Linked DNA regions of Homo sapiens. The protein of the gene in region 1 purifies or fractionates together with the protein of each later gene. This does not show direct contact. Each region holds a gene or a part of one and is shown in the gene's direction. Other genes may lie near its edges.

The links. Proteins that work in one complex are often made in the same cells at the same time.
Region 2: the proteins of C20orf96 (region 1) and CFAP74 purify together in Homo sapiens (co-immunoprecipitation; 2 studies listed by BioGRID and IntAct, with this or other methods). This does not show direct contact.

Annotation. Positions count from the first base shown.
Region 1 is NC_000020.11:273,728-280,750, reverse strand, and holds part of C20orf96 (uncharacterized protein C20orf96), read left to right. Parts: intron 1-1,420; coding exon 1,421-1,579; intron 1,580-2,321; coding exon 2,322-2,421; intron 2,422-3,367; coding exon 3,368-3,525; intron 3,526-3,605; coding exon 3,606-3,707; intron 3,708-3,871; coding exon 3,872-3,958; coding exon of another isoform or gene 3,959-3,991; exon of another isoform or gene 3,992-4,664; coding exon 4,665-4,783; intron 4,784-7,023.
Region 2 is NC_000001.11:1,923,780-1,930,802, reverse strand, and holds part of CFAP74 (cilia- and flagella-associated protein 74), read left to right. Parts: intron 1-466; coding exon 467-743; intron 744-1,920; coding exon 1,921-2,019; intron 2,020-3,056; coding exon 3,057-3,196; intron 3,197-3,774; coding exon 3,775-3,909; intron 3,910-4,041; coding exon 4,042-4,151; intron 4,152-4,290; coding exon 4,291-4,346; intron 4,347-4,455; coding exon 4,456-4,575; intron 4,576-4,864; coding exon 4,865-5,020; intron 5,021-6,282; coding exon 6,283-6,412; intron 6,413-6,873; coding exon 6,874-7,023. UniProt on the Homo sapiens protein: As part of the central apparatus of the cilium axoneme may play a role in cilium movement. May play an important role in sperm architecture and function.

The DNA of each region.
Region 1 (7,023 bases):
GCTGAGCTGGGATTTGAACCAAGGTGTGTCTAGGTTCAACATCCAAGTCTTAGTCACTACGTGGTTCAGCCATGCCTTGCAGTTTTAAGGCTACTCAGTTCTTGTTTTAGCATAACGGAAAGACAGACATTGGGATTCAGAAGTCTGGCTTTCCAGTTCCAGCCCTGCCACTTCTTGACTGTGTGACACTGGGCAAGTCATTAAACTCTCTGAGCCTCCATTTATCAGCAAAATAGAGTTAGTAAACATAAAGCTGTTGGAGGGTGAACAGATACCATGTGCCACCTGCAGAGCAAGGCACAGCACCTGGCCTGGCATGTAGAGGGCCCTCAGCAATTGTTGTTGTTATTGTTACTGTAGGTTTTATGCACCTGCTGGGTGTAACCTTAGGGGAGTACAATTGTTGTTGTTATTGTTACTGTAGGTTTTATGCACCTGCTGGGTGTAACCTTAGGGGAGTACAATTGTTGTTGTTATTGTTACTGTAGGTTTTATGCACCTGCTGGGTGTAACCTTAGGGAAGTACAATTGTTGTTGTTGTTGTTACTGTAGGTTTTATGCACCTGCTGGGTGTAACCTTAGGCGAGTCACTTAACCCTCAGACCCTCCTTGTTCCACTGGGGGCTGTTGTGTGAAATGAGAGTACTCATTGACTCCGCGGCCTGCCCGGAAATGCTGACGTTTATCATCCATTTTGCCTCCCCTGCTTCTCCTCCAGACATGGCGGTCGCTCTGCCACCTTCTTAACCTACCTGGGGCGTTTATTATTATTATTATTATTGGGACAGGAATCTTCCTCTGTCGCCCAGGCTGGAGAGCAGTGGCGCCATCTCGCTCACTGCAACCTCCGCCTCCCAGGTTCAAGCGATTCTCCTGCCTCAGCCTCCCCAGTAGCTGGCATTACAGGCACGCGCCACCACGCTCGGCTAATTTTTGTATTTTTAGTGGAGACGGGGTTTCACCATGTTGGTCAGGCTGGTCTCGAACTCTTGACCTCGTGATCGGCCCACCTTGGCCTCCCAAAGTGCTGGGATTATAGACGTGAGCCACCCCGCCCGGCCCTTACTATTATTTCTATATTTCATTGATTCTGAGAAGCCATTGATATGAAGGCACATCTTTATTTACCCACTAATAATATATTTGTTGATTAGTTGGTGACACGCCACCAACTGTAGATGCACCCGCACCTCAGGGATGTGAGATGATGGGTACACGTGCGTTTCCGAACGGATGAGAGTCCCGGAGCTCCCGGGCGGCGCAGACAATGGGGAACCGCCCAGCTTGGGCCGCGTTTACCAGCAGGAGGCCGCACGGGGGCGGGCGTCTGGCGGGGCCGGGGCGGCGGGTCCACGGGCTTTCGGGGGCTCAGGCCGGGCAGGGCGCAGCGCCGCCTCTCTGCTCTTCCCTCCGCCCGCAGACCTCGCTCAGGAGCGGGAGGGCCGCTCTGCGAGAGCTCCGAAGCCGTGAGAACTTCCTCAGCAAGCTCAACCGGGAGCTGATCGAGACCATCCAGGAGATGGAGAACAGCACGACCCTGCACGTGCGGGCCCTGCTGCAGCAGCAGGACACCCTGGCGGTGAGACCCGCGGCATCCGCCCGCCCTCCGTCCCTCCGTCCCAACCTCCGTCCCTCCCTCCCTCCCTCCGTCCCTCCGTCCCGCCCTCCGTCCCTCCCTCCCTCCCTCCCTCCGTCCCGCCCTCCCGCCCTCCGTCCCGCCCTCCCTCCGTCCCTCCGTCCCGCCCTCCCGCCGTCCCGCCCTCCGTCCCTCCCTCCCTCCCTCCGTCCCGCCCTCCCTCCCTCCGTCCCGCCCTCCCTCCGCGCACTCGCGCGCCCTCTCCTGCCTTTCCCCGCCCACTGCACGTGGTGCTTCCTCCACCTGGAAGACGCATTTCTTCACCCTTCACTCCCCTCACCTGGGCTTTGCAAGAGGACCGAGATGGGTTTCATCCCAGCGCGCCAGCACTCACTGGCCGGGAGACTTTTAGTTAACTTTGCCTCCCCGAGCTCTGTGAAATGCGGCACCATAGCACCCGTCCCAGAGGGGGTTCACCGGGCACATACTGTACCGGTGCGACAGAGGTCGCTGCTACCACCAACAGCATTTGCAAACACCTCTACGTGTAATAGCAAGCGATCTGTATGTCTTTATATAGTCCTTACAACAACCCTATGGGTGGACACTGTTACTGTCCCGATTAGCCTCTGGTCAGGTTTCTGGGAGTGAGGTTGGGACTGGGGACTCCTCTGAGGAAGTGCTGGGTGGCCGCCTCTGAGAGCCAGCAGAGCCTGTGGGTGAGTTGACTCCACCCCTCCCGCAGACCATCATCGACATCTTGGAGTACTCAAACAAGAAGAGGCTGCAGCAATTGAAATCTGAGCTTCAGGAGTGGGAAGAAAAGAAGAAATGCAAGATGAGCTGTAAGAATCCCTGGCAAATTCCTTGACCCTCCCCCCTGGCACCTTGGGGAGGTCAGCAGCAGAGCATTCACCTTGTACTTGCCATTCAGAAACCCTCAGCCCCATTGGCTCTCTTCTTGGCAGATGGGAATGCTAAGATACAGAGCGAATAGCATAGTTACCCAACACTTAGCTCTTTCCAGGCCCCGTATCTGGGTCTCTACCAATGTCTGCATTGTTACAGGCACACACTCAGTCATTGCAACTACTTGGAGGCAGGGAAGCTGTCCTCCCATTTTACAGATGAGGAAACCGAGGCTAAGAGAGGTGCAGTAGCTTGTGGAAGGTTATATAGCTAGGAGCCAGAATCCAATCCTAGCCTGGCTCTGTTTCCTGCCAAGGTCCTTCTGGGAGTCAGTGGCTGGGCTAGAACCTGGGTCTCCTGGCTTCCATCCTGCCTGGCCTGTGGTTCCTTTTCCCTGAGCAGACTACACACCTGCTGAGCAGAGGGGTGGTGGATCAGTCAACCCCAGACATTGGGGGTCTCTCTGGAGGAAGACAGGATAGACTTTGTCTTAATCCTGCCATGGGTTGTGTCTTGGGAGCCACTGTCACCCCATCTGCCTGGTCTCACTTCCTTGAGTGTGTCTCTGAGGAGACTGAAGTCTGGAGAGGGACAGTCTTGGCGAGAGCCACCCGGCAAGTCAGTGGCAGAGTGGGGACTAGTCTAGGGATCATGCACCAATTCCCTTCCTTTTTCCTACCCAGCATTGCCTCTTCTCCTGCAGGGGTGGAAAACCGTCTAGAGCCTTAACTTTTAACCACCTCCCAGCCCTGTGTGAGCTCACCTCAGCCCAGACCCCAGTTACTGGCCAAGGAGACCTTGCCTCCTGGGCCTCCTGGGGCCCAGGTGCTTGAGGGAAGGTCTTGCCTCCTGTCCCTGCTGACCTCCCTAACCCCTCCCCAGATCTTGAGCAGCAGGCAGAGCAGCTGAATGCCAAGATTGAGAAGACCCAGGAGGAAGTGAACTTCCTGAGCACTTACATGGACCATGAGTATTCCATCAAGTCTGTCCAGATCTCCACTCTTATGCGCCAGCTGCAGCAGGTTAAGGACAGCCAGCAGGTAGGGGAGCCCCTGCCCCTCTCCCACCAGACTGTGTGGGAGGCAGGACTGGTGACCAACACCCTTCTGCTGGCTCCCAGGATGAGCTGGATGACCTCGGTGAGATGCGCAGAAAGGTCCTGGAATCCTTGTCTGACAAGATTCAGAAGAAGAAGAAAAAAATTCTGAGTTCTGTGGTGGCGGTGAGTAGCCAGTTGCTGTGTGGGAGCGGGGATCCAGGTCTCACCCCCACCCCGCCCTCTTCCCCATCCTCTGCCTCCAGGCCCACTGCAGCCCCATCGGTCTCTACCATGTTCTGCTGCCCAGGAAGAGGCACCTGGGGGCCAGACCTCTTCTTCCTCCACAGGAAACCCAGCGTCCCTATGAAGAGGCTCTCCTACAGAAGATGTGGGAAAGCCAGGACTTCCTGAAATGCATGCAAAGGTTCAGAGAAGTGCGTGGGCAAGGAAGGTGGTGGTCCCTGTAGGGAAGCAGTGGATGGGCAGTCCCCACGGCCTGTGGGAATGAGTCAGGCTTCTCCTGATCTGGCGCTCAGGAGGTCTCTGACTCTGGTGTTGGCCTCCCTCCTTGCCGGTGCCATTACTGTCACTTGTCTTTCATCTGGGAAGGCGATTGGCACTGACCTAGGCCTTGCCTCATTAGCCAGCAATGCTGGCTAATGACCCATTTACAACCATCACCAAACATCACCTATTCAGCCATTAACCACCGTGCATCTTTACCCCTTGATTCTTGTTACTGCCCACCACCCATTATCAGTGTTAATGAACTTCACCATCACTGCCTTCTTGAATTAATTTTCATTATCTTGCCTCTTCACTGGTTTTTAATGTGTATGCCCTTCACTATCTCTGCCAGCCTCCATTCATTCCCATGATTGAGCATTCCCCGCCACTTTGTAACCTGTCTCCATTCTCCATGATCCCTCACCTGTTTCAGCACCACTGAATATTGTCACTAACTTGGAAGCCAGCCGCACCTTGCATGGGGAAGTCCCCTCCCTGGAGTCCAGCAAGTCCCAGTGACAGAACCCATACCATTTCCCCAGATAGCTTTGCTCCTCGTTCATTTTGGCCTTTCTCCCTTTGGTTGGGGGCCATTTGCCTCTCCCTTCTCCCCTGCTGTGCCTTTCCTCTCAGATTATTGACCAGTTTGAGGAGAACATGCCTGTATTAAGGGCCGAGGTGGAAGAGCTCCAAGCCCAGACCCGGGAACCCCGAGAGGTCATATTTGAGGATGTTCTGCTTCGGAGACCCAAGTATGTGATCTTTTTGCCACTGCCTCTTAAACCAGTCACACTCTGAGCTCACGGAGGCTCTCTGTTCTTGGGGAAGGCAGCCTGGTGTGGATGGCAGAACCCTGTACAGGGAGGGAGGGGCGGTCCTGGGTTTCCACCTTGGATCTGCCACTGACCAGGGGCAGATGTGACCTTTCCCATCTCTGCAAAGGCCTCCAATTCCCATCTGTACACAGCAGGCTGGGTGGTGTAATCTCTAAGGGCCCTTCTAGTTCCCAGATCCCATGTGTCAACCAAGTGGGTACAGCCTTCCACTTCTGGGTTTTTGAGGAAGGCAGAGTTGAGTGGGGTGGTTGGCTTCAGGGAAGAATAGCCTGGAAGACACTCTACAAGGAGAGAAGTCTGTCCTGTTCACTTGGCAGGTTTCTGGGCCCCAGAAACCAATTCTTTGCCTGCCCTTCCTTGGGGCAAGCCCTCTGCGGTTGGGTTGGGGGTCCCCCAGGCTTACCTCTCCTTGATGACACCACAGGACCATGTGTGGCAGAGCCTAGCATTTGCAAATTCTTTAATTTTTCTTCTTCATCTGTCTCTCCCTCCTGTCGTTTTCCTTCCTTCTCCTCTCCTATCGCCATTTCTTCCTTTTCTTCTATTTCTAAACCGCCCCCCGCCCCCAAAACAAAATACTATTGGATTTATGAAGTGCCTCTGAATGCCAGGCACCATGTGAATGAGAACAGTCCTTGGTCCCGCCCTCATGGAACTAAAGAGGGAACTGGACATGAGTCGATAATGAGCCACAAATAAATGTGGAGTTGCAGCAGAGCCCAGAGCTGCTGAGTAGAGTACATGCCACTGCAAAAGTGACTCTTAGGAGCTGGGTGCAGTGGCTCACGCCTGTAATCCCAGCAATTTGGGAGGCCAAGGCCGGTGGATCACGAGGTCAGGAGTTCAAGACCAGCCTGGCCAAGATGATGAAACCCTGTCTCTACTAAAAATACAAAAACTAGCTGGGCATGGTGGCGGGTGCCTGTAATCCCAGCTACTCGGGAGGCTGAGGCAGAGAATTGCTTGAACCTGGAAGGCGGAGGTTGCGGTCAGCCGAGATTGTGCCACTGCATTCCAGTCTGGGTGACAGAGCGAGACTCCATCTAAAAAAAAATTTTTTTTTAATTAAAAAAAAAAGAAAAAAGAAAGCAACTGTTAGGACAGCAAGTCTGGGCAGTCAAGGAAGGTTTTCCTGAGGATGTGACATTTGAACTGAGGCTTGAAGGATGCATAGAAATTCACTAGGTGAAAGAGACTGATGGGGGAGCTGAAGGAAGAGCAATTCTAGGCGGTGGTGCCAGGGTCTCCGGGGGACGTAATAAATAGTCACTTGTCTTTACCTGAACTCTGAACACAGTGAATGAGACTGAAAGGGGTAAGGTGCATGTGGGCCAGGTTATCACCTTTATTCTGGTAAAGCTGATTTTAGAGACTGTGTTGGCCTCTGAATAGTGAACCCAGAATTAGGCAAATTGAACCACCCGATCATGGTGGAGCTGGACCCACGTGGAGCCAGGCCTTGGGGCAGAGAAGAGTGGAGTCCTTTCGGGTTTCTTGCTGCTGAGAGAGAAAGGGACTGGGCTCCCTGTGTCCCCTTCCTCTCCTCACACTCACCATTCTGGTGGTCATACCCCCTTTCCAAAAGCAGAATTTAAGGGGGCAGAGAGAGGCCAGGAGCAATACACTCATGGATGCCCTTCCACGTGGAAGGGAACACCAGGAGCAAGGAAGCACATTTTCCCTCCTAAAAAGTAGAAATGGCACACTGTTAAGCAGAGCCTCTCCAACTGGAACATGCCCAGGAAACACCTGGAGATCGCGTTAAAAAGCAGATTCCAAGTCAGTAGGTCTCAGTGGGGCTCATGAATCTACATTTCTTTTTTCTTTTCTTTTCTTTCTTTCCTTCCTTCATTCCTTCCTTTCTCTCTTTTCTTTTTCTTTCTTTCTTTCTCTCTCTGTCTTTCTCTTTTCTTTCTTTTTCTTTCTTCCTTCTTTCTTTCTTTCCCCTCCCTCCCTCCCTCCCTCCCTCCCTCCCTCCCTTCCTTCCTTTCTTCCTTCCTTCTTCTTGAGACAGAGTCTAGCTCTGTCTCCCAGGCTGGAGTGCACTGGCACCATCTCAGCTCACTGCAACCTCCGCCTCCTGGGTTCAAGTGATTCTCTTGTCTCAGCCTCCCGAGTAGCTGGGATTACAGGTGTGCACCACCATGCCTGGCTAA
Region 2 (7,023 bases), on another chromosome or scaffold:
TAAATATTTAACAAAATAAGCTAGAAATTTCCTTTGCAACTTCCTTTGCAACTATCTAAACTTGTGATTAAATTTTTAGCTACCCAGGACACAGTGGCACTCATCTGTAGTCCCAGCTACTCGGGAGGCTGAGGCAGGAGGACCTCTTGAACCAGGAGTTCGAGGCTACAGTGAGCTGTCGTAGTGCCACTGCACTCCAGCCTAGGGCAACAGAGCGAGACTCCATCTCTATTTATAAATGAATAAATACGGTTTAAAATTTTTAGCCACCCACCTCAAATGTGCACAAGGATACGCTGTATTTTCGAAACTTGTCAGCGGCGCAGTGACCCCCTGGGCAGCAGGAACGTGCATGTCCCTGTGAGCCCCCCCCGGGGCTTGTCCTCCACCCAGTGGCCCCCGCGCCTGCCGCAGAGGGACACGGACGCCCTGCACGGCTGAGGGCCTCCCATGCTGCTGCTTGCAGGTGCTTCAAGCTGTCTTGCCGGGCTGTAGGCGTCCACCCACCCCTGGAGCTGTCCCACTACCAGATCAAGTTTGCCGCCACGGCCCTATACGACACCTCCGTGGCTACAGTGTACGTCATCAACTCTCACCTGAGCATGAGCTCACCGACCCACTCCAAGCCCCGCATTGGCTCAGAGGACGCCTCTCCCATGGGGCCCACGTCTTTCGAGTTCCTGCTGCCCCCAGACTCGCCTATCACCATCTCGCCCTCAGTGGGGACCGTGTGGCCAGGAAAGGTGGGTGTGGGCCCCACATGCAGGCTGGGAAGCAGGAGCTCCACGCCACCTGCATTTACCCCTGGGGTGTCTGGCTCTGCCCACCCTTAACCACAGGGTTTCAACCCGGAGAACAGGGGCGGGAGTGAACCTGACCCTCAGACCCGAGCAGGGCCGAGGAAGGATCCATGGCCAATGTGCATGGGGGCCCAAGGCCACCCCCATCGGGGGGGGTCACAGTGCCCTTGGTCCAGCCTGACCCCGAGAGGCAGGAGCTCCCCAGGCTGCTGGCCTGGCCGGAACCCATCCAGGGCTCCCAGGTTGAGACTGGGGAAGGCTGTGTAGTCCCTTGCACCTGTGGACCTCGCAGGCCGACTGGGAGGACAAGGTGTCGGCCACTCCCACCCAGCACTCTACCTTTCCTGCAGAGCAGAAAGCTCTGGGCCTGGCAGGGCCTTCGGGTGACCCTGAGGGCTGCCGAAGGCCTAAGTGAGGAAGGGCATGTAAGGGACAGTTGGCTCACATGGGATTTCAATGAATGCAGTGATTCAAAATGGATTTCATTCAACTTAGCGAAAGCCACTCGGTGATGGTTCTCACCCCCACACACATTACTGCAGATGCAGCTCTCCTCTCCCTCCCCTACCCTCTCCCCTCGCTCCCTCCCTACCCTCACTCCCTCCCTCCCCTACCCTCCCCCCACCCTCTCCCCCTCCCGCACCATGTCACCCCCAACCCCATACTGCACACTGCCTGTGGGCTCTGTCATGGAGGGACCCTTCTGTGGGAAGCCATTTCCAAGATGGAGGCTCCTTGGAAAGGCTGGTGTGTGCAGGGACCAGGTTAGGGTGTGGGACTCGCCCGTCAAACTCAAGGCAAGGGCAGGCTCAGCTGTCACTGCTGCCCCGAGGACAGGGGACCCAGTCCCGGCCTGTCCAGGACTCTATTCTCAGCACCTCCAATCACAGGACTGCCCCCTGCATGGCCAGAGGGTTTGGTGCTCCCGCCTGCAGCCCGCCCAGCCTCCTGGGGGACAGAGGTCAGGGAGGGGCTTCCTGAAGGGGCACGCAGCCTGAAATCTCAAGGGGGAGGTGACCTTGAGGGGAGTCCACGGGCAGAGGACGGTAGAGTGCCCGCAGGGGCTCCGGGGAGGTGGAGGGAAGTGGCAACCCCTGTGCCCACGCTGGTCTCTCCTCAGAGGTGCCTGGTCCAGGTGGCCTTCCGGCCAGTGCTGCCCGAGAAGCTGATCCGCCAGGAAGCCCTCCCACTCCTGAACAAAGAAATGGAGACCAAATCTGTGCGTGGGGCCCGGGAAGGAGGGGCGTAGGTCGGGGAAGGGCCTGTTGCAGGAACAAACTCCACCGCCTTCGAGTCCTGGGGGGCTCCGGCCACGTGCCGGGAGCACAGGGTAGACCTTTCCCAAGCAATGCACGTGTCGAGCTGTATCTGAGGTTAAAAAGCTTGCTCACCAAGACCCTCCCTTCTCTCTGGAAGGCACTGCCAGGCGGGAGCAGGGAAGGGTGGGCTCTGGAGGTGGGGGCAGTAGGGGCTGTGACCCAGGGGTGCAGCGGATGCAATGAAGGGCCCCTCCAACAACCTGGAGGCCCCGGGAGGCGCACCTGAAACACGGAGTGTCCTGCAGAATCTGCCCCACAAGTGCCGGCCCTGGAGGTGGCCTCGAGGCTCCTGCCACACTCCAGATGCACCCTTCCCAGCCTGGCTTCCTCCCACGGGTTTGCCCTTCCCGGCCTGGCTTCCTCCCAAGGGTTTGCCCTTCCCGGCCTGGCTTCCTCCCAAGGGTTTGCCCTTCCCGGCCTGGCTTCCTCCCAAGGGTTTGCCCTTCCCGGCCTGGCTTCCTCCCAAGGGTTTGCCCTTCCCGGCCTGGCTTCCTCCCAAGGGTTTGCCCTTCCCGGCCTGGCTTCCTCCCAAGGGTTTGCCCTTCCCGGCCTGGCTTCCTCCCAAGGGTTTGCCTTTCCCGGCCTGGGTTCCTCCTGGGCGTGCACTCGAGGGGAAGCACTTGCCTTCGGCCTTCCGCGGTGAAGATAGGGGAAGGCACCAGGGTGGGGACCCCGGTTCTGGCCGCCTCCTCACTCCGTGCCTCGGTTTATCCTCTGGTGAAGCAGACGCCACAGTCTGTGAGCAGCTCTGTGGGGGTCTGTGTGCCCCTCCGCACTGGCTACTGTCTTCCTCGGGCGCCGGTCGGCTTTTGCGTCCCCACATTCAATCCCAACTGCGGCTCCCGCGGTTCCCGCACTGGCCGCAGAGGAGCCACGGGGCACAGCTGGCTGTGTTTAGGGCCCTGCACAGCCCCACAGCCAGTCGCTCCCCCCACAGTTCCGAAAGAATATGGCCCCCCAGAGGAAGGACCTGCATGGACTGTCATTCTCCGTTCTTCGAGCACAGAACCGCGACAAGCTGTTCAAAGTCTCTGTCCCCCACGTCCTGGAGATGCGGAAGCGGGAGCTGAGGCCCAGGTGGGTCCAGGAGGGGCTGCCCCACCTGCTTCCCTCCAGGCCCCTCTGGTGGGACCCACTGTGGCCCCTGTAGAGTCCCCTCCCTACAGATTGCCCGGAATGACCCATGTGGCTGGAAGGACTGATGCCTTCAGACACAGCTGGATCCAGGTGCTGCCTTCCTGGGACCTACCCACCCCATTTCCCCAGGCCTGACACCCCTGCACACAGCCTCAATCCACGGGTGGGGAGCAAAGCCACCACCCCCCACCCAGCCCCCCGGGTGCAGAATGAGCCCTGGGAAAGCTCTAATGGGTGCCTGTGGCCCCGGGAAGGAACATGGCTCTCTAGCCAGGGGCCAAAGGCACCTGCCCCAACCCCTAGCCTCCAGCCACCAGCTGACGAGGACCTGAAGTGAGTGATGAGACCCCCACAGGAGCCAGAGAAGGGTGGAAAAGCCAGTTTGTCAGACACAACTGGGACAGCCACAGCTTGGGACCCTGGGACCCTGGGACCCTGAGGCAGAGCCGCAGGGGTCCGGCCTGGGCCGATGGTGGGTGGGGGCAAGGCGGGAGCGCAAGCCTCTGACTTCCTTCTAGTTCCGACGAGTACCAGGCCGCCCGAGCCACCCTGCTCAGAGCGTTCCAGGCGAAGTTTGACACATTTGTAGTTCCCTGTGTTGTTGCCAGTGGCGACATCAAAGACAGGAAGGGGTCAGAACCCCTGAGCTTCAGGTGCGGGGTGCTCTGGCCAGAACAGGGTGTGGTCAGCCGCAAACGCGCTGTCCCTCTGCTACTGCCCAACTCTGGGGCCTGGGCGGGCAGGGGGCCGCCCACCCTGCCCTCAGCATGCCCTTCCTATCCCAGCCCCCACAACACCCTGTACCTGGAGCTGTGGTGCCCGACGGTGGCACCATCTGTTGTGGTGACGTCCCATAAAGGCAAGACCATCTTTAACTTCGGCGACGTCGCTGTGGGTGAGACGCTAAGCCCCGCCCACACCTCCACCCCGGTGCCCAGGCACACCCACGCCTCCCCCAGCCCCACGGCCCACCCCTGGCAGAGACGCTCCCTGGGGCCTGGGGCTGGGGCCTGACGCTCCCTGCCCCATTTCAGGGCACCGCAGTATCAAGAAGATCTCCATCCAGAACGTCTCTCCCGAGGATCTGGCCGTGTCCTTGTCCACCCAGCTCAGGCGGCCTGCGGGGTGGGAGCGGGGACCGGGGAGGGCGTGGTAGAGCCTGCAGACACCTGTATCCCCTCCTTGACGTGGACCCTCAGCTGGACTTCTCCCTGCTGAACCCCAACGGCCCCTTTGTCCTGCTGAACCACTCCAGCCTGCTGCGTGCAGGTGGGACCCAGGTCCTGGTGCTTTCCTTCTCTCCCCACGAGAGCATCCTGGTGAGTCCCAGGCCCACCCTGGCCACACTGCGGCCCAAGGCTCCCCACACTGCAGAACAAAGGCACTGGCCGGGGCGGGCATCACCTGTGCTCAGGCCTGGGACTAAGCCTGGGTCTGCGAGCAGCCTGGCCCCCAGGCCCTCACACCAGCCGCCAAGTGAGCGGAGCTGACAGAGCCCCCCCAGAGCTGTCTCAACTCCAGCGTTGAGAACCCACTGCCCCTGAGGCAGAGCTCCCCTCGTGGCTCCAGCAGACATCGGTTCCTGGCTGAGCGATGTGGTCTCTTTAGGCTCAAGAAACACTGGACATCATCACCAAGAGAGGCACGCTCACCCTCACCCTCATGGGCACTGGCGTGGCGTCCATGATCACGTGCTCCATTGAAGGCAGCGTCCTCAACATGGGCTATGTGATTGCCGGAGAGTCTGTGTCCTCAGGCTTCAAGGTGAAGCACACGTGGGCCCTGGTGCTGGCTCCAGCCTCCCAGGAGGGGTTTCCACCAGGCAGGACTCAGGCCAGCTGTCAAAAGTGACCCGTGGGTCGGAGAGCCCGTGGGGACACAGGTGGCCCCCTCTACCCCTCCTCTACACAGCTGCCGCCTCTGCCGCCCTCTCCTGCAGGGAACCCGGGGCCTGTTTCTGGGGAGGCTGCAGATGTCCCCTAGTCCTCCCCACCTCCCTGTCCTCCTTGGCGCTCTTTGTCCCTCCTCCTCAGCCCCTGCACAGAGCTCCCCCACCCACCACCCACCCCCTGCCCTGCTGCTTGAACTCACTCCTTTGGAGCTCAGCTCAGCCACCGGGGGCAAGGGTTTGCAGCCCTCTGCAGTGAGCCGCACTGCCCTGCGTGCTCTCATGCCTCGCACTGCCCTGTGTGCTCTCATGCCTTCACACCAGCGTGTGCCCTCATGCCTTCACACCAGCGTGTGCCCTCATGCCTTTGCACCAGCGTGTGCCCTCGTGCCTTCGCGCTGCCCTGTGTGCCCTCATGCCTTCACACCAGCGTGTGCCCTCATGCCTTCACGCTGCCCCATGTGCCCTCATGCCTTCGCCCTGCCCTGCGTGCCCTCATGCCTTCGCCCTGCCCTGCGTGCCCTCATGCCTTCGCACCAGCGTGTGCCCTCATGCCTTCGCACCAGTGTGTGCCCTCATGCCTCCGCACCAGTGTGTGCCCTCATGCCTTTGGACCAGTGTGTGCCCTCATGCCTTCACACCAGCGTGTGCCCTCATGCCTTCGCACCAGCGTGTGCCCTCATGCCTTCGCACGAGTGTGGGTCCGGGAGGGACACCTGCTTCTCCGCCTGGCTCAGGGCGGGTCCTGGAGGCAGAGCCCGAGACGGGCGTTGCATGGAGAAAGGGTGCTCTAAGGAGAGGGGGTGAGGGCAGGGAGGACACAGGTGGGGACGTGGGTTCAGCTAAGCTGGGCCTGAGCGAGACTCAGGCGCCCTGGAGGACAGGTGACACCCCAGAGCTGTCCACGCACCCTAGGCAGGGAAGCCGAGCCCCGGCCTAGCAAAGGCTGATGAGAGGCTGGAAGAAGGGATGTTGGCACACAGCTCAATAAACCGCCACGTGTGCTGGCGTCATCAGGCCACCCGGGTCCCCACTTGGGTGTGGCCTCATAGCACCAGCCAAGTCCTGGGCACCGACGACAGGAAGGGGGCAGCCAGGCAGGGGCTGGCGGGCAGTGACCGCGGCCTGCTCTCTGCAGCTGCAGAACAACTCTCTGCTCCCCATCAAGTTCTCCATGCACCTGGACAGCCTCTCCAGCACCCGGGGCCGGGGCCAGCAGCAGCTGCCGCAGTTCCTCAGCTCGCCCTCCCAGAGGACGGAGGTGGTCGGTGAGCGGGGGGTGGGGGGTGGGTGGTGAGCTGCGGGGGTGGGCGGTGAGCTGGGGGAGTAGGCAGTGGCCTGGAGGGGGACAGTTGGTGAGATAGGGGGCTGGGCAATGAGATGGGCTGCGGGCGGTGAACTGGCAGGGGCGGGTGGTGAGCTGGAGGGGGGTGGTCGGTGAGCTGGCGGGCACGGGCGGTGAGCTGGGTGGGGGGCAGTTGGTGAGGTGGGGGGTGGGCGGTGAGCTGGGGGGGTGGGCAGTGAGCTGGAGGGGGCGGTTGGTGAGATGGGGGGGGTGGGCGCTTGGATCCATGGGAGGAGTGGGGGGCGCAAGGCCATTGGGGGGACCGGGCAGGACAGGGGCTCTGCAGGGGGGCGGGCAGGGTGTAGAGCTCTATGCAGCAAGGCTTGGAGGGCAGACAGTGATTGCAGGTGGAGAAGGCCAAACTGCACCCCACCCTACCCGCAGGGACGCAGAATCTCAACGGTCAGAGCGTGTTCAGCGTGGCCCCCGTCAAGGGCGTCATGGACCCCGGGAAGACACAAGACTTCACTGTCACCTTCAGCCCCGACCACGAAAGCCTCTACTTCTCCGACAAGCTCCAGGTGGTGCTCTTTG